2 separate regions of the Homo sapiens genome follow, and region 1 is linked to region 2. Evidence: fine-mapped expression QTL. A gene starts in region 2. The other region holds a variant in brackets. All regions are shown on one strand. Distances are between the middles of the regions.

Region 1 (12,647 bases), 45 kb before region 2:
CACTCCAGCCTGGGCAATAGGAGTGACATTCTGTCTCAAAAAGAAAAGAAAAAAAAATGAAGTGCATATTGGGAAAATTATGAAAGGCATTGAATTTGGAGCAGATTCATGTTCTGGCTCTGCCAATCGTTAGCAGTGTAGCCTTGGGTAAGTCGTTTAACCTGAGACTCCATTTCATTATCCGTACAGTGGAAATGCTAATCCCTGCTTCACAGTGTGAACATTTAATGAGGTGAAGTAAAAAATGCTTCACTGTAAAATGCAAACCTAGCTACAATGACACAGTAAGTTTCCAGGAGAGGTGGGAGGCTGTCACAGGACAGCAGGAACACAATGGCTACTTTCAAGTACTCCAGGGCATTCCTGTAGGGGAGGAGACACAAAGAGGCCTGTGTTATAGACAAGGTCTGAGGGGGTGATGGGGGAGGAGTTTACTCCATAAAAATAACATGTTAATAATGAGGACAGGCCAATGTGGCTTCAGGAGGTGGTGACTTCTTCATCGCTGGGGATGCTGGAGCAGAGCCCGGCTGATCTGTCCCTTTAGGGGAGTGTTGAAGAGGAGATGCAACCGCTGACCAGTGGTTGGATCGATCAGCTGTGCTCAAGCAAGGGCAGCCCACTATCCCAACATGTGGGGGGCCTTCTGTTGTTGTAGAAATTTCTGAGTGATTGAAATGGCATTTGGTGGATGTGTGCCAGGGCTGCTAAACCTCTGGCAGTGGTCATGCCAGTCGTAATCAATGGCAATGCCAGTGGTGCTCTGTGCATAAACACTGGACTATGTGAATTCAGAGCTCCAATCTTGAGAGTCCAAATAAACGCAAGATTTATTTTCAGCAAGTGTAACCAGCAAGCCCCCACTTTTTTGCCAACGCCTCACTGTGATAATGGAAAAAGTATTTGACTTCAGAAAAGTCTTAGCTATGATTAAACAAGCAAAGTCACAACAGCAAAACAGTGTAATCCATTTAAAAATTAAGGCTATATGCAGAGGGTATTAAAGTCACAAATACACATGACCATTATGTAAATGGCTATGATAAGACTGTCAGAAGCATAAATCATTGATTATTCTCCCAGATATATAACAAGAGCCAACTACTCTGCTTGGAGACATCACAAATAAACAGTACACATTTAATGAACTTGTTTGCTTGCTACTTAGGACCAAAAAAGGGGTCTCTGGAGATCTCTGTTTTCTTCAAAAACACTGGCCAGGCAGTTTGAACAAATACCTTCCTTTTTTACATCAGCATTCACATTTTCTTGATTTGGGGGCTTGGATCATACTAGGAGATTCAGTAAATATTTGCTGTTGTTGCTGCTGCTGTTGTTTTTCTCACTGATGCATTTTTACAAGAAATGCATGTGGCCCTTTTCTCATTGAGGCATTTTTACAAGAAATGGATGTCACCCTGTCCTCCCTCTCACCTTATGCAGAACCTGTGTCATCAAAAGGCAGGGGGAGTGGCTGGCTGCAGAAGGGCTAGAAAGCGGTTCACCCTTCCTGCAGGTGTCTTCTTAAAAGGAATTCTCAGAATTGCCTGCAGGGTCCCTGATGGCATCTGATTCTGGCCCATCCCCAGGGAACAGGGAGGCGGGAAGCACCAAGGTTTATCACTTTGGCATCAACCTCAGCCAAGAAAGGTGAAACCTCCCTGGCCCATATTCATCTTAAAATGTGAGCCTTCCATTCATCAATGAGGGGATGGTCTGGGCATTATTAGACTAGCTATCATGGTGGCTTTCCCTAGCATGTTGAAGATGAATCTTTAAACTTTCAGGAATACCCACGTTTGTGCAGCAAAACAGTTACCCAGAACCTCTCAGACTTGCCAACTAAAATCTGGGTTTGTGGATTTGGACAACTGCAACTTCTTAGGAAACATCATGAGGGCTTCAATTTGAAGGTTCTCAGAACCGTGTGTAGTGACTGTTAGCATTGCCGTAAGTGTGAGGGAGGTGAAAAGTTCCATGAGGAGTAATGGTCTTGGGGACAGAACTCTGCTCAGGGGCCAGGACATGGGGCTCGATTCCCAGTGGCATTCCCTTCAGTGATCTGCTCTGTCCCTGCAGTGAACGTTACTTTTGTGTTCCCCTGTGAACTATACCTCCTGGCTTCATGTCCTGTGCAGGCCCCTCCACATGGACTCTGGGTGTGGCCACGAAACTGGCCTTGGCCAGTGATCCATGAGCCAGCATGATGCAAGGGGGACACACTGGGCCCATCCTTGTGGAGCATTCACTTTCAGAGCCCTTGCCACCTCATAGAGGTCTGGCCACCCTGCTGGAGAGCCCTGGCCAGCTGCCAGCTGTTTCAGCCATCCAAGCTGAGGCACCAGAAACCTGAAAGAAGCCCCTTGGATGGTCCAGCCTCACTGTCCCTGTGCCGGCTGGGCCCCCCTCTCAACTGACCCACCAGTGGCACACAACCGTCCATGACCCCAGCCAGTGCCACAGGGAGTAGAGCTGTTCTGCTGAATCTTGCCCAAATTCCTGGCTCACAGAATCATGCAAAATAAAATAGTGGCATGGGCCACTAAGTTTTAGGGGGTAGTCTGTCATGCAGCAATAGATAGCTATGGAGTGAATGGATAACTGTTGCCCTCTGTGGAATTTGTGCTTTTTCTGCAAAATAAAACACTTTCCACCAATACCGCAACCAGCATAGAAGTTCTTCATCAGATTACACTAAAGCGTGTTCAGCTCAGCAGAAACTGTGTCCTTTCACAAGGCCACCTCCGCATCAGAGAACCAGGAATGGTAAAATTCCTGGTCAACAGAAACACTCATATCTGAGAGTAAAGTACTATATGCAGTTTTTTTTCTATTTGAAACAGTGTCTCACTCTGTCACCCAGGCTGGAGTGCAGTGGTGCAAGCATAGCTCACTGCAGCCTTGAACTCCTAGGCTCAAGTGATTCTCCCGCTTCAGCCTCTCTAGCAGCTTGGGACTACAGGTGTGCACCACCACAACTGGCTAATTTTTTAGTTTCTTTTTGGAGAGACAGGGTCTTGCTATGTTTCCCAGGCTGGTCTTGAACTCCTGGCTTCAAGTGGTCCTCCTGCCTTGGCCTCTCAAACACTATAAAATCTTAATTACATCAATAGAAGGAATTTCTGGTTACTAAAAATAATACATTTAATGCTTGGTACAGTTTCTCTAAATTCCCCTGCTCTTTATTAAAGCTTATCACATCTATACTTATTTACATACATTTTTTTCCACCCTGACAAGTCACAGAATCTTGAGGTTAAGGGTCATGGTCCAATTTTTTTTTTTTTTTTATATAGTCTTGCTCTTTTGCCCAGGCTGAAGTGCAGTGACACGATATTGGCTCACTGCAACCTCCGCCTCCTGGATTCAAGTGATTCTCATGCCTCAGCCTGCTGAGTAGCTGGGATTACAGGCCCACGCCACCATGCCTGGCTAGTTTCTTTCTTTCTTTTTTTTTTTTTTTGTATTTTTAGTAGAGACAGGGTTTTACCATGTTGGCCAGGCTGGTCTCAAACCCCTGACCTCATGATCCACCTGCCTCAGCCTCCCAAAGTGCTGGGATTACTGGTGTGCGCCACCGTGCCCAGCCCTATTTGCATGTTTAATATGATTGTTCTTCCAGAGGTTTCCAAAAGATTCCCTGCTTAAGCGTGTAGGATATCTTTTAAAAAACCCAAACCAGTAGAACTTTCTGGGTCCACTAAGTGCAGCCCATGGTGCCATTATAATAGTACCAGATCTCTGTGAAGTGGAAGAACTGAAAAAACATGTCCCTGTATTTGTTGGGAGGCCAGTTCTTTTCTGTGTACCTTTCATTCATTTTCATGAATACTGATGTATGTCCATCTCCCCAACTAGACGATAAGCTCCACGAGGGCAGGGTTTGTGTCTGGTTTTCCTCACCACTGTAACTGCACTCCTCACAGTGCCTGGCTCATGGTAAGCTAAGCCCTGGCAAATATTTGTTAATGAATTGTACCATGTTCAAAAATAAACAACCTGGAGAACCTCTGCTGGTTATCATCATGGGTGAAACAAAGTTGGTCAGGAGTTACGATCTGCCACACAGAAGCCTCCCGGCTCACGAGCTTCCATTTCTTGCAACTCAACAGCATCATACACCACAGTATTTCAGACTTCTCGCTTAGCTCTTGTTTTTGTTTTTTTCTAACATTGTGAATGTGCGCACACACTACACAAGGTACTTCAAGCTGTTCAAGCCACCCCCAGCCCCTCATGCACATTAGGCAGAGCCAGGCTGTTTCCATTCACTCCACAGGAAGTGAACTCCCCCCAGCCTCCTCCCTCCACCTTTTGTCCTTGGGATACATCCCCGGCCCGGGCCTCTCTGGGTACGGGTGTCAGCACTGGGATGAACTGTGGTTTCTTTCTCGTTCATCCTGGCCTGGACCCCAATTTCTGAGAATCATGGGGTGGTGGGAAGTATTCCAGGAAAGTTCTGGCTCATGTCCTTCTGGAAAGACATGTGCTTTCCCTAACAAATCACTCTGTGCTACACTCACCAAAGGAGCTCCTGTCCCAAGATGGGCTCACTTCTTTCTTTCTCCTTCCCAAGTGTTACGTGGGTTTAGATATAGACATTCAGGGGCGATAAGCTCATTTATGTATCATAGTGTCACTAAAGATAGAGTTCATGTTTATAGAGTGTTGGTACCATTCATTGACCCAGAAATAAAGCTAACTTGGCCAGGCGCGGTGGCTCATGCCTGTAATCACAGCACTTTGGGAGGCAGAGGCAGGAGGATTGCTTGAGGCCAGGAGTTCAAGACCAGCCTGGGCAACATAGCAAGACCCCTGTCTCTACAAAAAATAAATAAAAAATAAACTAGCCAGGCGTGGTGGCACGTGCCTGTAGTCCCAGCTACTTGGGAGGCTGAGGTGGGGAGGACCGCTTGAGCACAGAAAACAGTCAAGGCTGCAGTGAGCTATGAAGGCACCACTGCACTCCAGCCTGGGCAACAGAGTGAGACCCTGTCTTGAAAAAGGAAAGAAAAAGCTTCAGCAGCAATACAATGAAAATACACACACCTGCGTATGTTCTGCATGACTGGGATGAAGGAAGCCAGGCAAATGCTTACACTTAGCTCCCCTCACAGTAGCATATTCTGTGGCCACTTAGGCAGTAAACAAATGGCAGAGCTATTTTTTTTTTTTTTTTTTTTTTTTACAAATTATGAACTTACCATCATCCTCCCATTCTTTGAAATTTAGAAAGACATTGTATTTTTTGTTTAAGTGTAAGTTCTGATTTCTCAGGCTAAGGGATGAAGACTGGGAATTTATAGATCTGGGTCAAAAGTGCCCCACAGAGCTTCTCCAAACCCAGGCGGGCTCCTGGGGTGGCTCAGCAGTCTGTCTCCATCACTTTTTCCCAGAAATTTGTCTCATTCCCACTGTTTACCTGGCAAACCCCTGGATCCCCTCAGGCCCCACCTCATCACCTCTGCCTCTACAGGGTCCTTTCCATGACTCCCCAGAGTGCTGGTAAATCCTCGTGTGCCCCCACTGTTCCTACAGTTACATCCACAATGGCAGTTCTCAGCCTTAAAGGTCACCAGAATCACCCGCAAGGTCGTGAAACCCCAGCTTGCTGGGCCCACCCTGAGAGGTTCTAATTCAGTAAGCCTAGGGAGCACCCTAAGAATATGCACTTCTAACAAATAGTCTGCTGGTCCAGAGACATTTTTTTCTTTTCTTTTCTTTTAGACTAAGTCTCGCTCTGTTGTCCAGGCTGGAGTGCAGTGGCATGATCTCAGCTCACTGCAACCTCTGCCTCCTGGGTTCATGTGATTCTCCTGCTTCAGTCTCCCAAATAGCTGGGATTACAGGCATGCAATACCATGTCTAGCTTTTTTTTTTTTTTTTTTTTTTTGTATTTTTAGTAGAGACGGGGTTTTACCATGTTGACCAGGCTGGTCTTGAACTCCTGACCTCAAGTGATCTACCCCACTCAGCCTCCCAAAGTGCTGGGATTACAGGTGTGAGCCACGGCACCTGGCCTGAGAATCATTTTTCTTAATTACTTGATTCCATGCTTGTATCTTCCACTTGACTGTGAGTGTCTTAAGATCAGGAGGCATTTCTCACACATCTCATCCCCGCAGTCTAGCAGTGTTTAGCAGTCATTCAATCAATAAACAAATATTTATGGAATGCCTACTGTGTGCCAGGTACTGTTCTAGACACTGGGGTTCAGCAGTTAAAAAGTACACACACACACACACACACACCTCCCTGCCCTCATAGACTTCACCTTCTGAGGCTACACAGTAAACCATCAATGATTATTTATTGAAATCTGACCAGTTGTACAGAAGAAAAAAAATGGCATTATCATGCCTCTCTTAATAGTACTGTGGAAATGCCTATTTTTCCCTTTCTAATCACAGTTTTTCCCACTTGTATGCTTCTTCCTCTGATATCCCATCCCAACACCCAACAGGCAAATCCACAGACCTGGCAATATGCCAGGATTTTGGGTCTTACAAAATATTTACTGATTGATTTATAAAATGTTTGGTGTACATGACATGTTAGTTAGAAACAACAAATCCAAGAGCTGAAGCATGAGAGTTAATACAATAAAGCAATTTGGGAGGTAAGCAATCTCAGTGTTTTTATACTGATAA[G/T]AATATCTTAATTCACGGTTTTCAAACTAGCCTTAGTTACCTCTAAGTGTACATCACCTCCTCTCCTGTCCTATCCCATGCCCTCCATCTGTGTAGTGTTTATGGCAGTTCTTGGCTGCCTTGTATGATGACTCTGAACTCCCCATGGTCCTACACAGGCTGCAGTCACAGCCCTGGCATGGAGCCAATGTTTGGATGGTCGTGCGTGTAATTCTGAGAAACTGGTAGGAAGCCCAGTGAGGCCGTGTGATGTGGCGGAAAGGCAGGGAACAAAAGCAGAGGCAAACCTGACCACCGCAGATCCAGGAAGACATTTCTCATGAAGCACCCCAGGCCACCCCTCTCTAACCTAGGAGAGAACAGAAAATGTACCTTCATTTTTGGAATAATTTTCTGAATGTTTCTCAGCAAATAAAAATGTGAGAAATCACAGACAGCAATCTGGAATAGCTGAAATGACCATACTTTCAAGACTTTCAGTATTTATTCTTGAGGTTGGCAAATGTTTTTAAAAGGCTCTTCCTTTTGAAGATCAAAGCCATGAGACAACCTATGTTAATTATACAGAAGGGAAGACTATATGGGGGAGCAGCATTTATTAATGGAATTCTAGGAAAGCTAGTTTCAATATTCCAGACTCAAATATTTCTTCTCTGTTAACATCATAACCAAATTTGAGGTTCACTGTTAGTGATTTCAAGAGTCAGTGATATCAAGCAGCGACACTGTCTCAGAATAACACTCTCTTCCTATTGCTACCCAAAGTCTGTGATAAACAGGACCACAGAATTAACATTTACAAAATATACTTTAAAAATGGAGACAAAGTCCACTAACTTTATTTTTATGAGTCAATTCTAATTAAGTAAATTCTGATTACTAGAAAGCTTTGGGTATAAATGTGATCTTTTGGTTTGCTATACACTGACTCTTAAAAGATGACACTTATTTCCCTGGAGCAGTTTACTAACTGTCACTCTTGTAATTCAAAAGAATTAATATTTCTCAAAAGGTGTGTGATTCCCTGCAGAGGCATGACCTCTTGTGAAGCAGACCCTTTCAAATTGGCTAATATAAAGTCAAGATAAATAGAAATCAGTCCCTGTTGGTGATTACATTGGTTGAAGTTATTGCTCCCTCATTTCGTGTAATAAAATAACACACTACTACATTATGGAAAACCCACACATAAATCTAAAAGACAAATATTCTTATTAACACCATTTGTATCCTAGAAATAAATTAGCTTCCTTAAAAAATCTTTTCAATTATTCACAAAATCCATCCTTATTTTCTGAATGAACAAGGCTGAATTTTAGAAGTGCAATGAAAAGTTCTTGAGGTTCCCCTGCAGTGTAGACAGGCCTTCTTAGTGGATTCCGAGGCGCAGCTTCTTGTCCTGGTGCTGCTCTTCCTTCTGTGGGACAGGTCTCAACACACCATCTAGCATTGAGAATAACGCTAGGTCAGGACAGCTTCATTTCAAACCCATGGGCACTTGTTTCAGCCTTACATGTTGTAAGAGCAAAACAATGCTTAAGTTAAAGGAACTTTCACTTTATTTTATCTTCAAATTCTCAATTGTAGAGAATCCAATCTAGATAACTTACTCTCAGGCAATACAGAATCTGGCTTTTAAAAACTGGATTCACATTGGCCGGGTGCAATGGCTCACGTCTGTAATTTTAACACTTTTGGAGGCTGAGGAGGGAGGATAACTTGATCCCAAGAGTTCAAGACCAGCTTGGGCAGCATAGGGAGACCCCATCTCTACAAAAAAAATTTTTTTTTTTTAAACAGGTGTTGTGGCGCACACCTGTAATCCCAGCTACTCAGGAGCCTGAGGTGGGAGGACTGTTTGAGCCCAGAGAGGCCAAGTCTGCAGTGAGCCATGACTGTGCCACTGCATTCCAGCCTGGGTGACACAGCGAGACCCTGTCTCAAAAAAAAAAAAAACCAAAAACTGAATTCACTCAACAGTGTACGGCAAGTAATTCATAAAACTTTTTGTTTTATGTTTTTGGTGGGGGGACGTCCTATTACTAGACTGGAAGAAATAAAATGTACCTCCTAAGGGAGAAGGGGACTGTGTGTGGGGTAGGGAGAATCTGGGGACTGGAAGGAAGACGGACTTATCTGACTGGGCAGGCTGGGAAAAGAGTATGGCTTCAACCTCTTCCTGGCTTTTGTGTTTAATAGCTTTATTTGTACAATAAATGATACATGTTTAAAGTATGCAATAAACTAAACATAAAGTGTATAGCTTGATGAATTTTTTTAATTTACTTTTTGATTTGTAATATTTGTAGAGATGGGGTTCTCAGTCTGTTACCCAAACTGGTCTTGAACTCTTGGCCTCAAGCAATCCTCCCACCTCAGCCTCCCAAAATGATGGGATCACAGGAAGGAGCCATTTTGCTTAGTCCAGTTTCATGATTTCTGACATAAGTACACATTCATGAAACTATCCCCACAGTCAAGACAATGAACATATCTATCACCTGCAAAAGCTTCTTTCTGCCCCTTTCTTCCCATCTTTTGAGGGATTTCCTGCCCTGAGCCTGTATGTTCTGCCCTGCTGTTTCCTTGTCCTAAGGACACCTGGGCCAGGGCTCAGACTTGCCTTCCAGAGGTAGATCTGGAAAGCCACCCCTCTCTCTTTCTTGTTCTCATCATATCATGTAATATTTGAAACATTCTCTCTCTCTATATATAATGTATTATGTAATATATAATAATACATACATAATACAGATGGGAGTTCTAAAGCCTAACAATAAAATGAACACTCATGAACTTACTGCCCCAAAAGAGTTACAGTTTGTTTAAAACTGAATAAAACTACATTATGTGTGTTGGGGGGAGATGGAAAAAAAACAAAACATACTGCCGAATCCAACAACTAGAACATTATCAATTCCCGTGCGCTCCCTCTCTCGTCCCATCCCCTTTCACCCCACTCAGAGGCAACTCCTATCTTGATTTTTGTGTTTATCAATCGATTGCTTCTTAACAATAACTTTACTGTATATACTATATATTAAAGTATATTTTATTTATTTATTTATATATTTTTTGAGACAGGGTCTGTCTCAGTCTGTTACCCAGGCTGGAGTGCAGTGGTGTGATCTCAGCTCACTGCATCCTCAACCTCCTGGGCTCAGGTGATCCTCCTATGTCAGCCTCTGCGGTAGCTGGGACTACAGGCACAGGCCACCATGCCAAACTAATTTTTTGTATCTTTTGTAGAGATGGAGTTTTGCTGTGATGCCCAGGCTGGTCTTGAACTCCTGGGCTCAAGCAATTGGCCCGCTTCAGTCTCCCAATATGCTGGGATTATAGGTGTGAGCACCATGCCTGGCCTACCACATTTAACCAATATATGGTATGTCTTTTTGAACTTTATACAGAAATGGTATCATAATTCTGTAGTTTGCTTTGTTAAATTCAACATTTATATTTCTAAGATTCATCCATGTTGAAGAATGTAGCTCTAGTTCATTTGTTTTCACTGCTATATGGTAGTCCATTGTGGGAATACACCATAATATTTTTATCTAACCACCCAAAACAAACATTTGTGTTATTTCCAGTTTTTGCTTTTAAAAACAATATAGCAACAAATTCTTTGTCTCTCTGACTCTTATACAATATGCAAGAGTTTCTCTAGGGCATACGCTTATAAAAAATGCTATTTCAGGCCAGGCGTGGTGGCTCATGCCGGTAATCCCAGCACTTTCGGAGGCCAAGGCGGGCAGATCACCTGAGGTCCAGAGTTTGAGACTAGCCTAGCCAACGTGGTGAAACCTCGTCTCTACTAAAAATACAAAATTAGCTGGGCATGGTGGTGCATGCCTGTAATCCCAGATACTTGGGAGGCTAAGGCAGGAGAATCTCTTGAACCTGGGAGGTGGAGGTTGCAGTGAGCCAGGATCACGCCACTGCACTCCAGACTGGGCGACAGAGTGAGACTCCGTCATAAAAAAAAAAAAAAAAAAAAAAAAAAGCAAAAAAAAAGCTACTTCCGTGCAATGTTAATTTGCATTTCTCTGACTACTAATAAGTTTAATCATCTTTTCATGTGTTGATTGGGTGAACTAAGTTCAGTTCACTCACCTTGCAGCAGACCCAGACCTGATCTCAGATCCCAGCTTATATGGACATTTGTCCCCAGGATAGCTCTGGCTATTGTGTTCGCTTACTATTGCTCCTCAGATTCTAGCAAAATGCCTTCTTATCTCTATTTTGTTCTTAGGAGAATATTTCTCTTATTTTCTTGAAAGCTCCATGACTCTTTAAAAAGAATGCTTGTTATGGGTTACCTGGGTTCCATTTGCATGGAGTGGAAGGGCACTTGAGAGTTGTCAGTCACACTGCCTGCCTTCCTTCTCTGTTTGTCCCTGCTACTGGCACTGAGAGAGTATCCAGCAGCAAGTCCCCCTCTGAGTTAGACAGACTGATTTACCCAAAAGTCAAGCCCCAGTCTAACAACAAAGCTGGTGTTGTAACTTTCATCTGTTGATTCTGGTGTCTATTTCTCAACTGAATCAAAAATTGGAAAGGAATTACATACTGTATGATTCCATTTATATGAAATGGCCAGAATAGACTAATCCATAAAAACTGAAAGAGTGGTTGCCTAGGGCTAGGGGGAGTGAAGAATGGGGAGTGACTGCAAATAGGCATGAGACTTCTTTCTCAGATAATGAAAATGTTCTGAAATTATGTTGTAGTGATGCCTGTACAACTTCGTGAATCTACTAAAGAAGCAAATTTATGATAGATGAATTACATATCAGTAAAACTATCATATAATTAAAAAGGAAATGGGGTATTGCTTACTGAGATCAAACACTTGTTCAAAAATGCATAAACATAAACTTAACTGTTCAGTTGAACTGTCACAAAGCAAACATATGTAACCATCATCTGGGTCAATAAATAAAACATTGCCAGCAAACCAGAAGCCTTCCTTTTGTCCCCTCCTTCCAATCTTGGGGCTTTAACCACAGCATGTCTTCCTTTTCCTTAGTAATCTAGGAATAATAAATCCTAGATACAAGCCCTTTGTTGATTATAAGTGGCAAGTATCTTCTCATATTCCATGGCTTGCCTTTGCACTCTTGTAGTGATATCTTTTTTTTTTTTTTTTTTAAGGCAGGGTCTCACTCTGTTGCCAAGGTTGGAGTAGAGTGGTACAAGCATGGATCACTGCAGCCTCAACCTCTTCATGCTTAAGAGATCCTTCCACCTCAGCCTCCTGAGTAGCTGGGACCACAGGCATGTGCCACCACAATTGGCTAATTTTTGTATTTTTTGTAGAGAGAGGGTTTTGCCATGTTGCCTAGCCTGGTTTCAAACTCCTGGGCTCAAGCAATTCACCCACCTCAGCCTTCCAAAGCACTGGGATTACAGGTGTGAGCCACTGCACCTGGCCTAGTAATATATTTTAATGAACAGATATTCTTCATTGTAGCATAGATAAATTAACCTTTTTATGATTCGTGCTTTTTGTATCCTTTCCCTAACATAGGAAATTATTCATTGGCCCCTTCAAACACTGTCATTGAGTGTACATTATTTAATCAGATGTATAGATAGACAGAGAGACAGACCGATAGATAGATAGATAGATAGATAGATAGATAGATAGATAGATACAGCCTTTTTTGCTAATAAATTTTTAAAAAGAAAGATGCAGTGGATATGTACTTTTTTCCAAATTGCAAACAATACATTTTCTATTTGAATCAAATAAAGCTAATTCAGAACACTGAAAATCAATATATTCACAGAAAAATTATTCTAAGACCTTTATACTTCTTGATTTTTCAAGGTTAAAAAATTGTTATTATCAAGAAAACTTACAGAAAACTTCCATTTACTTCAAATCCAAATAATTCGATAATATAGTTACTGTTTTATTTTTATTTTTAGAGACAGAGTTTTGCCCTGTCGCCCAGGCTGGAGTGCAGTGGCGCTATCTCGGCTCACTGC
Region 2 (12,647 bases):
TGTTTCAAAAAAAAAAAAAAAAGGGTGGGATAGTTAATACATTGATAAAGTTTTAAAGTAGGAATGGGAAACTTTGTAAATGTTGACCTGCTAGTCTTATGAAACAAGTGCTGGATGCTAGAAAAGAAAGAACCATCAAAAAGAAGTTTATAAGAAAACCCATGTTCTGGGAATGAGGTTTCTGTTCAGACAGAACAGGAAGTAGAGGAAGTGATGGTATCAGTGGAAAAACGGTAAGGATGTGGGTGCTAGTAGTGGTAATAATTATATATATGAGTGATGATAATAACAGTACCTAACATCTACTGCATGTTTATCATGTACCAGGCCCTAAATTATCTCATTTAATCCTTATAACTTTATAAAGTAGCTCCTATTATTCCCATTGTACAAATGAGGAAATTGTGGCTGAGAGAGATTAAATAATTCAACCATGGTCACACAGGTAATTAAGTGGATATGCCAGATCCAGCCCAAGATCCATTGTCTTAACCATTATGCCACATTGCTTCTGTTCTGGAAAAGTACAGTGAGGGCCTTTAGCATAAGGTACCAGAAGACACAATGGAAAGAGTTAGGAGGCTAGGTGCGGTGGCTCATGCCTGTAATCCTACCACTTCGGGAGGCTGAGGCGGGTGGACTGCTTGAGCCCAGGAGTTAGCGACCAGTCTGGGCAACATGGCAAGACCACATCTCTATTAAAATAAATACATAAACAAATAAATAAATAAGGAGACAACAACAACAACAACAAACACATAGTACCTAACATGTGCCAGGCACTAAGACCTTTACAAATATTAACTCATTCATTTCTCATAAAAGCCTCATGTAGTATATACTAGTAACATTTCATTTTACAGATGAGGAAGCTGACACAGAGAGGTAGAGTTACCCAAAGTTATACAACTAGTAAGAGGCGGAGCCAGAGTCTGAACCCAGGCAGGCTGGCTGTAAAACCACTGGCTACTCTAAATTACTAGACTAAGGTGCTGCTCCAATGTTTATACTAGCATTACAGCATAAGTATTTTCTTATGTTAAGTGAAAAGGGTAGGATCCAGAGTTAAATGATCTCATGTAAGTAAAGAAAGTAAGAGAAAAAAGACTGAGAAACAATTTTTAAAAAGTAATTAGTCTCTAGGAGGTGGAATTATGATAAAATTTTTCTTCTGTCCATTTTAAAAATAACAAACATATATTACTTTGGTAACTCATAAAAATACTTTTAGTAAGACAAATGTTGGTAAAGTATCAAAAGCAGTATTTCCAATACAATTACATGTCTAATTGCATCTTGGTATTTCTGTGATTTACTCTGTACAACAAAAGCAGACTAAAGAATTTAAGTGAAACAATCTTATTACTTTAGCTTAAAGAAGACTTTTTTTCTCTTAATTGGAAAAAGTTTGTACTCAACTCTAAGAATACCATGTGCAAATAATACTGGAAAAAATATACTATAGTAAATGGTAAAGAAATATTAGGCACAAAATTGGGCAACATTTTGAGAAATTTAATATTTCCACAAGTATAAACACAATGGCAGCATATACTACATGCATATGAAATTTAGATGTATTCTTACTGTATAATTTAAAATTAATAACTTATCAACCCTGTAACAGTACCAAAACTGTCAAATACAAAATTGTGTTCCTGCTATGACTGCAACTACCTGCAAAATTATGTGGATATTAACTAGTACAAAAAGGAAATCCAAGAGAAAAAAATAGTTTTTAAAAATGTTGCAGCTATAAATTCAGTTTCAATGATAATGTTTGTACAATAAATAACACTATAAAAGTGGAGTACAATATGCTCCCTTTCATTCTGTATTCTTCCCCCACACTATCATTGGTCTTGCTTTTTTGCAATGGCCATGATATCAGAAGAACTAATGAAATTATATACTTCTGCTTTATTGACATTAAATATACAAGTAATTGACAACCTACAATCATGTTCTAAATACTTGGTAAATCTCCCTTTTCGGAATTTAAAACACATTTTTCTCATATAAACAATGTTAAAAATGATAGTCAAGTTCCCAAGTTAACATGCAAAAGCCTCTTTCACCCAGATCACTGCCAGAGTAATCCTGAGGCTCTCCCTCCCCAAGTGCCTTGGAGTCCCAAGCCCTGTAGGTAAGAACAGAAGTAAAGGCCTACCCAAGACCATGGTGAGAGGGTTGTAGTCCTAGGACACATGGGTATGGGAGCACAGCTGGAAAGACACCAATGCAGTGAATAGGAGCTGGGCATGCTCCAGGACCAGGAGCTAAGAGTGATAACCTTTCATATAGCCAAGTCAATCCTAGTTCCAGGTTGCCTGGCTTTCTGAAGACATGGATGTTCTTTGTTTTGATGCCTTCTGTACTCATTTCTATGTGTTATAACTTTCCATTTAAAAGCCTTAAATAGACATGCGTATGAGTCAGATTTCTAAATAAGATCCCAAATAAAATATCTGAAACAAAAGACTTATTTATTTTCATTTAGAAAACTTCCATGGTGCCCACCAGATGAAGGAATGAGATGCCAGGAAAACTTAAGAGTTGTTGGCTTGGGAGAAAATGAGAGTCATAACCTTGATCTTTTGTTAAACATGATATAAAGTTGTATAAAATTTTGTTGCTAATATAGTTTTGAAATTTCCTTGGTAGTATTTTTTTTAACAAAATGCTAACTGAAAGCTTCATCTCAGTTTTCTCAGATCCACAGCTTTCTCTATATAGTATGAGGAAACAGTAGGGTGTGTATTATTTGCAAATAAACTTCAACAATTAGTTGGCCAATCAATTCCTTCCTAATAGAAACATAAATGTCATTTCTCACTAATTAAATACAACTTGTGCCTGTTGAAAAAAAAAACTTAATTTCAGCACAGGATGTGGTGTGTATATAAAAAAACAGAACTAAAACGAGATCACATCTGGATATTTACAAAAAAAAGAACGCCTTTTCAAAATTTGTATTCAATCTCTAATATGTCCAGTTTTTATACGTTTTTTTTTCTTTTTTTTTTCTTTTTTTTTCTGTCGCCAGGCTGGAGTGCAGTGGCGTGATCTCAGCTCAATGCAATCTCTGCCTCCTGGGTTCAAGTGTTTCTCCTGCCTCAGCCTCCTAAGTAGCTGGGACTACAGGCACGCACCACCACGCCCAGCTACTTTTTGTATTTTTGGCAGAGACGGGGTTTCACCATGTTGGCCAAGATGGTCTCGATCTCTTGACCTTGTGATCTGCCTGCCTCGGCCTCCCAAAGTGCTGGGATTACAGGCATGAGCCACTGCACCCGGCCTAAAAGTCTTAAACCTCTAAATATTTGTTTCTAATCTGGCTCTTCAAAATAAATTTTATCTGAAAACAAAACAAAACAAAACAAAAAAAACACAACACTACATAAAATCCCTAACAGCTTGGAAATCTACTTTCATAAAATAATACTAAACTATTAACAAGTAGAAGGAATAAAGGAATTTCAAAATTAATGAAGGAAATGAAGAGCTTTCTCAGCCGTTAATAACATGTAGAGCCAGAGTGGGGGGATGAGGGTGAGAAATATGGAATAACGATGTATAATATTTTAAATAATGTTTTACTATCTATAAAACACTTCACATAGGAATTGGGGGAGGAAACTACACCAAGAGATATCATTTTATTATGAGAAGCGAATATCCTCACATCCTGTTAAAATTCCTCAATGCAATTCCTATATTGATAAGATAAAATCTAAACTCCTTTGCAAGGCATACAATGCTTTTTATGATATGATTCCTGTCTACATTGTCAAGCTCCTTTCCAGTCTCTTCCCTCTACCTAACTTCACTTTCTGGCCTGAGGACCACAAATTCTCTCATTGCTCCAAGCTTTTCCATGTAGAGTTCCTTGGCTTGGGCAAAAGTCCACTAATCCTTCATGTCTCAGTGCAAATACGACCTTCTCTGTGAATCCTTCCTTCACTTCCCCATATAGAGCCTGGCTCCCAGTCTTGCCAACATCTCTGCTTATACTATGTACTCACTCCACCAATTCTGTTTTAATTGTTTAAATGCCTAGTGTTTCTACTCATTAGAAAATAAAGACCATGTTTTTTCTGCTTTGTGTCTCCAGTGCCAAGCACAAAACCTCATCCACAGTAAAATGAAAAGAGTAGGTGGTCTCCTAAGAGTACTGTGGGAATTTAAGGATTTATAGTCTTTCTCTGGAAAATCTAAAGCAACCTTTCAGCAGAATTATGGGCAAGTTGGAAACCTCAGCGAGTACATGCAGAATATAACTACAACTTTGTAAGAGTAAAAATAAAAAACCTCATGCTTAAGATTGGAAGCACCAAAATATTAACAGTAATGTTGTTAGAGTGGTGAGAAGCCATGTGTAATTTTCTGCCCCACCCCCCTCATTTTACCTCTGTTTTAAAAAAAGTCTTAAATGCTCAACTTAACCTAATACTATTTTCCAATGGCCGTGGCCCCCTATAAAAATTAATGCCAACACCCTAAGCTTCCAAAATTATCAAACAGAAATGATGAGAACCTAGCATCATGCCATTCCAAGCATGGAGGAAAATGAGAACCTAGCCCCTTGTTGCCCCAAGGGTAGGAGAAAGAAAAGACGCAGGATGTTTATACTTCCAATTCCAATATATTGGCTTTTATGATTATTCTTACTATACATTTCTGATTTTTTTTTTGAGATGGAGTCTTGCTCTGTCACCCAGGCTGGAGTGCAGTGGTGCAATCTCAGCTCACTGTAACCTCCAACGATTCGTTCAAGCGATTCTCATGCCTCAGCCTCCCGCGTAACTGGGACTACAGGCGGATACCACCACTCCTGGCTAATTTTTGTATGTTTAATAGAGATGGGGTTTCACTATGTTGCCCAGGCTGGTTTTGAACTCCTGACCTCAGGTGATCCACCCACCTCAGCCTCACAAAGTGCTAGGATTACAGGCGTGAGCCACTGCACACAGCCCATTTCTAATCTGTTTTGATCCTGTCTTTCAAGATCCAAAAAGAGACTACTTCCATCCAACATTAATCAATTAGCACTCATATAATGCTAGACTCTAAAGGGTATATGCTAGGTAAAATAAGACATGGTCTCTATCTCCAGGCAATTTATATATTTCTGTGGCAGAGGAGTAAACTACCTAGATAAAACACCAACAGTATATATAATTGGGGGAAATTATGTGGTATAGACAATAATCTTATTAGCCGAACTGACATATGAATACCATTAGTACCCGATAAACATGGTATTCTCAGAAAGTATTTTTAGAATGGAAGATGACTTATTACGGCTGGGAATTATAAAGTGTCATGTTAATCAATAAAGATATTTTTTAAATCTTAAGCCTTGTTAAGTTTGGTTTTAGGTATGACAGAAACTGGAGCAATAAACTCAGATTTTAAACCACTGCTTTTCTAAGGGGAAAAACTATGAAACAAATTATACCTGAGATTTTTGCCGCTGGGCTTCTGCTGGAAAGAGCTCCATCCAGAGGCTGAGCAGAGTGAAAAGGTTGACTTTAGAAAGCCTTGGTATCTGACCTACAAAAGAGACGACAAACACTTTAAACTTTGTTACTAATGGTGAAAAAGGGAGCCAATCTCAATGCCACTTAGGTGCTGCAGCCTAAGCCCAGCTGCTTTCGCAAGAGGCACAGAAAAAGATAGGGGACAAGAGAGTCAGAGGTATCTTAGCAGTAGACGCTTCAGCCTTAGTCGTGGCTACCTCCTTCTCCACTTAAAAAGTTGAGCCTTCTTTCTCCAGCCCTCACCCTGCAGGAAAAAACGGTACAGCTAATACACATAGCTGAGGGGGACAACCCAAAGCAAGCTGTGAAAAGTCTTCGCATCTGACGTCGTCGTGGTGCAAGCTTTTCTTTGGACTGTGATGGGGCGTTGCTAAAAGGAAAGCGATTAGAACACAACCCGAAAAATGCGCTGACCTTCGACGGTAAAGCAGTCGAAATACAGGAAAGCGTCACGTGCGGTTAATTTGGAAATCAAGGCAAAAGCGCCGTTTGGAAATGTTCAGGCTCTTTGACCTCAGAGGCCCCAGCTCTAGGTCCTGTGAGAAGTAGCTAACAGGGGTAAAAAGCGAGACTTCAAAAGCCAGTGCGACCGAGCCGATTGGTCCTGGCGACCGCGGAGGGGACACGCAGAGGGCGGGCAGGAGACATCCAAAAGCAGCAGGGGAGGCAAAGAGGCTCAGACAAGGAATCTGGAGTTCAATGACGGGAGACGCACAGGGCAGAGCGAAAGGTAGGGTGGCGGGAGCAGGGTCCCGGACACTCACCGGTCATGCTGCCAGTCTGGGTGCTGACTGACCGCCCGGCCCTCGCGCTCTCCAGATTTTGCATCTGCCCAGCTTCTTTCATCCCAAACCTAGCGTCCTCTGCTGCCAAGGAAACCTCTCCCAGTCAGACATGATCTCGGCCCTAGCGCCCCCGCCTCTCGCCTCCTCTCAGCAACTGTAAGGCAACGGCCCACTAGGCGCAGCCAGATGACGCCTCAAGCTTGACCGCCACTTCAGGGCTCCTCGTGTGACGTCATAGAGAGGCGGGGCTTTGGCGCCAGAGGGCTGCCCCTCGGCCGGTGACCGAGTTAAGCACCGAGCTGTAAATCGCTTGAGACCTGTATTTGGTTGTTTTGTTGGTTTTGCCAAGTAAGGTCACTTGAGGATTTCTTGGCTCGAGGTCCCAGGTTGCGCAGACTCTGACTGCATCGAGTTGAGAATTTTGGTCAGAATGTTAAAGTGGAAACCTACCCCAGGCTGTCATGGTCAGTGTTTTAGAGAACTTCTTGGGTTGGGGTGTGGAGCTGGGCGGTCCAGGATGTTCTGTCATCAGAGACTGGCGGGTTCTGGGGAACTTGGTGCCATGGAACACAGTAGGGACGTTCTGCTTCTCATCAAGAACATGAAGACATTAAGAGGTGGAATTGTAATGGGGAAAAAGGTGAGAGGAGGCAGTAGGAGTTATTTTGTTTTTAATTTCTAATGTCTAGTTTATTTCCACAAAACATCTGTATCATACCAGTTCTTTGAAATTTGTTCAGACTTGTTTTATGACCTAGATCAGCACTGTCCAGTAGGATTTCCTGTAGTATTCTATATCTGCACTGTCCAATATGGTAGCCACCAGCCACATGTGGCTATTGAGCATCTGAAATGTGGCCAGTACAACCAAGGAACTGCATTTTTAACTTCATTTAGTTTTAATTAATTTACATTTTAAGTAGTGACATGTGGCTATTGGCTACTACTGTATTGGACAACATTACTCTAGACTCTCCTCCTGGAATTCCTATTAGGCATAGGTTAAACCTTCTGAGGTTCTAAATTATTATTTTTAAAATATTGCATCATTTTGTTTCTCTGAGCCACATTCTGGCTAATTTCTTCAGATCTATCTTTCAGCTTGCTATTTATTTCTTTGGCTTGTAGAATTTTTTCTAGTTCGCCTGTTCTGAGGGTAAAGCTCTTCAGGTGATTTGACTATATCCAGAGAACTCCATTCTGCACCTTTCCTGAAGTGTAGACTTTGTTGACAGTGCCTTCATGGCAATTAACACTAAGGTTTAAAGACAGGCCATGGACTAGGAGAAAATATTTGCAAAGCATGTATCCAACAAAGGACTCATATCCAGAATATATAAAGAACCATATAAACTCAGAGTAAGTAAACAGTCCAGTTAGAAAATGGATCAAAGACTTGAATAGTCATTTCACCAAAGAAGATATACAGATGGCAAATAAACATGTAAAACAGTGTTCAGTGTCATTGGCCATTAGGGAAATGTATATTAAAACCACAATGAGATTCTACTACACACCTATTTAAATGGCTAAAATAACAAGTACTGACAGCACTAAATGCTAGTGAGGATGCAGAGCAACCGGATCTCTCAAACATTGCTGGTAGGACTATAAAATGGCATAACCACTCTAGAAAACAGTTTGACAGTTTCTTATAAAGTTGCACATATGCTTATCATATCACCCAGCAATCACACTCCTGGGTATTTATCCTAGACAAACCAAAACTTATGTTCAAACAAAACTCTGTACATGAATGTCATGGTGGCTTTATTTTTAATAGTCAAAAACTGAAAACAGGCCAGGCATGGTGGCTCACACCTGTAATCCCAGCACTTTGGGAGGCCAAGGCGGGCGGATCATGAGGTCAGGAGTTTGAGATCAGCCTGGGCAACATGGCGAAACCCCGTCTCTACTAAAAATACAAAAAATTAGCCAGGCGTGGTGGCATGTACCTGTAGTCCCACCTACTCAGGAGGCTTAGGCAGGAGAATCACTTGAACCCGGGAGGCAGAGGTTGCAGTGAGCCAAGATTGCACCACTGCACTCCAGCCTGGGCGACAGAGTGAGACTCCATCTCAAAAACAAAAAAACAAAAAAACTGTAAACAAGCCAAACAGTCCTTAGTGAATGAATAGAAAGCAAACTGGAGTATATCCATGCCATGGGACACTACTCAGCCATAAAAAGTAATGAGCTATTGATACGTACAACTTGAATGAATCTCAAGGGCATTGTGGTGAGTTTTTAAAAGCCAGTCTTAAAGTGTTGTATACTGTATGATTCCATCTAGATACCATTCTCATAGCCAAAGAAAAATTATAGCATTGAAGAACAAATCCATGATTGCCAAATGTTATGGTTGGGACAAGGGTCTGACTGTTAAGAGGTAACACGACAGAGTTTCTTTGTGTTGACAGTTACTCATATCTATACATGTGATAAAATTCATAGAGCTATACACCAAAAATGCAAAGTGGTACATTCAAAACTAGTAAAACACAAATAAGATCTATACCTGTATTAACAGTATTTTACCAGTATCAGTTTCCTGCTTTTACCAAAGTGCTGTGAATAGGTAAGACATTATTATTGCAGAAGCTGGGTGAAGGGTAACACAGGAACTCTGTATTATTTTTGCAACTTTCTTTAAGTCTTAAACTCTCAAAATAACTATATGTATATATATATACATACACACCTATATATGTTATATGTGTGTTTGTGTGTGTATCTTTAATCCCCAGCAGTCTAGATCTGCCCTGCCCTTCAAACAATCATTAGCTTTATTGCTCATTAACCTCTCTTTGGACTCCTGGTCTCATTCCATTTTCAGTCCTTTAGTATTTCAGAGCAGTTTAAATACTTGGACTATTTCTCTTACTTTCTTGCTAGCTCAGCCATATTTTATCCTGCATTTTTAGGTATTTGTAGCTGAAATATTTTTCAGACTAGGCTAACTTTTCCACAGTATTGGTGGAATAATTGTTCTGCTGCAGAGGAATAAGAGGACTAAAAAGGATTATAAAATGAAATTTTCCCTAAGTGCTGAGAAGTGGACAAGCTCAGAGCAGCTGAGTTCTACAAAGGCCAGTTTAATCAATAAAATGGTTTTTAAATCAATAAACAATTCTATATATCAAGTGGAAGGACCATGGGCTTTGATATGAGAGAGACAAGCTGTATTCACACTCTAAGAACAGAAGTTATTTACCAGTTACTGTATCAGTTGGCTTAGACCCGGCTTGCTGTGGGTAACAAATGTGAACCCCCAAAATCTAAGACGGGTCTCAGTTAATTTAGAAAGTTTATTTTGCCAAAGTTAAGGATATGCGCCTGTGACAGCCTCAGGAGGTCTTGACGACATGTGCCCAAGGTGGTCAGAGCACAGCTTGGTTTTGTACATTTTAGGGAGATATGAAACATCCATCAACATATGTAAGATGAACATTGGTTTGGTCTGGAAAGGTGGGACATCTCGAAGTTGGGAGGGGGCTTCCAGGTCTTAGGTAGATAAGAAACAAATGCTAGCATTCTTTTGAGCTTCTGATTACCCTTTCTAAAGGAGGCAATCAGATATACATTTATCTCAGTGAGCAGAGGGATGACTTGAATAGAAGGGAGTCAGGTTTGTCCTAAGCAGTTCCCAGCTTGACTTTTCCCTTTAGCTTAGTGATTTTGGGGCCCCAAGATTCATTTTCCTTTCACACAAATGACCATGAAATCTCAGTGGCTTGCCCCCACAAAGGTTAATTTTTACTCATGTTACATGCTGCTGCTCCTGTGAATTGGCTCTGGGATCCAGGCTAAAGGAGCAGCCTCTGTCCTTTCTTTCTTTTTTCCACCCTCAGTTCCCCTGTATGTGACTCACCTTCCTAGCATGCTAGTTGCTTCTTTGGCTTTCCAGCCCCTTCCTCTTCCTCTGCTGTAATAGCCTCTTCTCCCTTGAAGGGGAGGGGAGGGGAGGTTATCAAATGCCTTTTTGACTGACTTACTCAGGGAAGAAGGAAGGGAGGAAGGAATAGCCCAGGGAAAGAAGGAAGGAAAGGATGATGGTAAAACATTTATCACAAATTTTCATGAAGGGCTACATGATCCCAAGTAGTATGGTGCTTGGCAAAGCACAGGTGCTCAATACTGTTGATTGTCCCTCCCTTTTTCATCTTTCATTTACCTATTCTCTAAGTAGCCTGAATTTTCTTTTATTCTAGGTCCTGTGGATTGGGAATGTTAGTCTTAGCAGTGTGTTTATTAGGACAGAATCCTCTCAACAAAGCAAGCTGATGGTCTGTGGAGTTGATCATAGTCACTGAATCTGTAGCTGGATCTGCTGATGCTGGTGGTGCTTATGGAATACCTGGCTTGTGGAAGAAAATGTACCTTACACTCAATTTTGCTCTTGTGAGAAGGCACTCCATGACCAGTGCCAGAGACACTGGGTTTTAGCAGATAAAGCATTTACCTATAGGGTCACCAAAGGAGGAGATGGGAGGGAATCTTAAATCCATCTGTCTGAGGAGTTTGGGGCTACAGTCTTTAGGGTTTTGGAGTGGGCCCAAGTGTGGAGAGTGTTCACTGGTCGAAGAGCACAGGGTGAAGTCATGGGACAGGGAGATGAAGAAGCTGTGTTCTTATGCTCATCCCGTTCTTCTGTGAGGGTCTCCAAACTGGTCGCTGAAATTTGGATCTGAGAACATCTTAAGCAATCCTTAAACAAAAGCCTTATGATTCCGTCAGAGATCATCTCTATAGGAACAACAGGGATGCAAATCCATTTTTAAACAGTCTTATTGAAGTAGGATATTTCCCTGACCGCTTTGCAGGACTCGCAATAGGGGTGCCCCATTTACTCAGCCCACAGCTCTCAACTCCTTGCGGGAGGGAGCGCATGAGCAAATAAGGCAGGAACTGGAGTACACAACCACTGGAATCAGCTGGCCACTTCGTCACCAGCAGGAGTGAACTCCACTCATTCGGACTCACTGCTCTCCACCCCTTATGGGAGGGAGCACACAGGTGAGCAGGTGCAGGAGCCAGGTGAGCACTTTTGAGCACCAGCAGGAGCAAACTCCATGCATGCCCCCAAGGCAGTATCTGGTGGGGTTCCTGCAACCCCTGAAGCCCCAGAGGGAGTGTTACAGTGGTCTTTTAGCTCTGCCATTTGCAGACAGCTTAAGTGTTAGCAGCTCTGCAGAGCCTCCCTCTGCCTTTTCATGTGAGGGAGCTGTCTTCCACCAGTGAGGGCAAAGGGCCAGTGTGACAGCCTTTTGCATCTGCACTTGTGGCTCCTAGGCTCTTGTTTGGCATCCAGGAGAAATGAGTTTGGACGAAGGAATTGAAAGATGGTAAAAACAGGATTTTATCGCTGATAAAAGTGGCCCTCAGCAGGAAGGGGAGCTGAAAAGGGGATGGGGTGGGAAGGTAATCTTCCCCTGAAGTCCGGCTGTCTCTGGCCAGATTCTTCTCTGAAGTTATGCTGTCAAGCTGTCTCTCTGAAGTCAAGCCACTTCTCTCAGACGTTGAGCCATAGTCTCTGATGTCCAGCTGCTTCTCCTTTTTGCCGGCTGAGTCTGGGGTTTTTATAAGCACAGGATAGGGGGCAGGGCGGGCCATGGGTGGTTTTGGAAAAGGCAACATTTGAGCGGGAGAACAGGGATGTAAGTTCTCACTTTGGGCTGCAGTCTCAGGCTTTTTGGCTTGAGGATGGGACTTTGCCAGGGACCTGCCCCTGTCTGCCTAGAATTTCTCTGCCTCCTGTCTCCATCATTATAATCTTAATGTCAGAAATCCTATCTTTAGGAACAATGGGGATGCAAATGGTCAGGATCTAGTGACTTTTGGCAACAAGGAAGTGTGCTGAATTGTGGCCTGATTAGTTCTTTTTTTTTTTTTTTTTAAGACAGAGTCTCATTCTGTTGCCCAGGTAGGCTGGAGTGTAGTGGCACAATACTGGCTCAATGCAACCTCTGCCTCCTAGGTTCAAGTGATTCTCATGCCTCTGCCTCCTGAATAGCAAGGATTACAGACACATGCCACCAAGCCTGGCTAATTTTTGTATTTTTAGTAGAGACCAGGTTTTACCGTGTTGGCCAGGCTGGTCTCGAACTCCTGAACTCAAGCGATCCACCCACCTTGGCCTCCCAAAGTGCTGGGATTAGACGTGTGAGCTACCGTGCCTGTCTGATTAGTTCTTTTTTTTTTTGTAGATACGGAGTCTTGCTCTGTCGCCCCAGGCTGGAGTGCAGTGGCACGATCTCGGCTCACTGCAACCTCTGCCTCCCAGGTTCAAGCATTTCTCCTGCCTCAGCCTCCCGAGTAG

Direction of the effects. Positions count from the first base shown, and alleles are read on the strand shown. Sizes are in standard deviations (SD) of each study's normalised expression.
In carriers of allele G in region 1, the expression in adrenal gland of the gene that starts at base 6,502 in region 2 tends to be lower than with T alone (large effect, 0.83 SD a copy in GTEx).

What was found. PIP is the estimated chance that this variant, and not a neighbour inherited with it, causes the effect.
Region 1: its variant is fine-mapped to the expression of CDADC1 in adrenal gland (GTEx, PIP above 0.99). The same link has a PIP of 0.9 or more in thyroid.

The regions. Positions count from the first base shown.
Region 1 is chr13:49,287,130-49,299,776 of GRCh38, reverse strand. It overlaps CDADC1 (cytidine and dCMP deaminase domain containing 1), which reads right to left. Exons shown (of 10, transcript NM_030911.4): 10 at 6,292-8,093. The coding sequence ends at 8,020. Among named protein-coding and RNA genes, the nearest start is that of CDADC1, 46 kb to the right of the region's middle. The variant G/T (reference allele first, on the strand shown) is at 6,651.
Region 2 is chr13:49,241,780-49,254,426 of GRCh38, reverse strand. CDADC1 (cytidine and dCMP deaminase domain containing 1) reads right to left here and starts at 6,502. Exons shown (of 10, transcript NM_030911.4): 1 at 6,308-6,502; 2 at 5,462-5,556. The coding sequence starts at 6,389. It overlaps LOC105370203 (a long non-coding RNA gene), which reads left to right and starts at 6,587. Exons shown (of 2, transcript NR_135318.1): 1 at 6,587-6,792. RefSeq lists enhancers at 6,380-6,609, 6,079-6,641.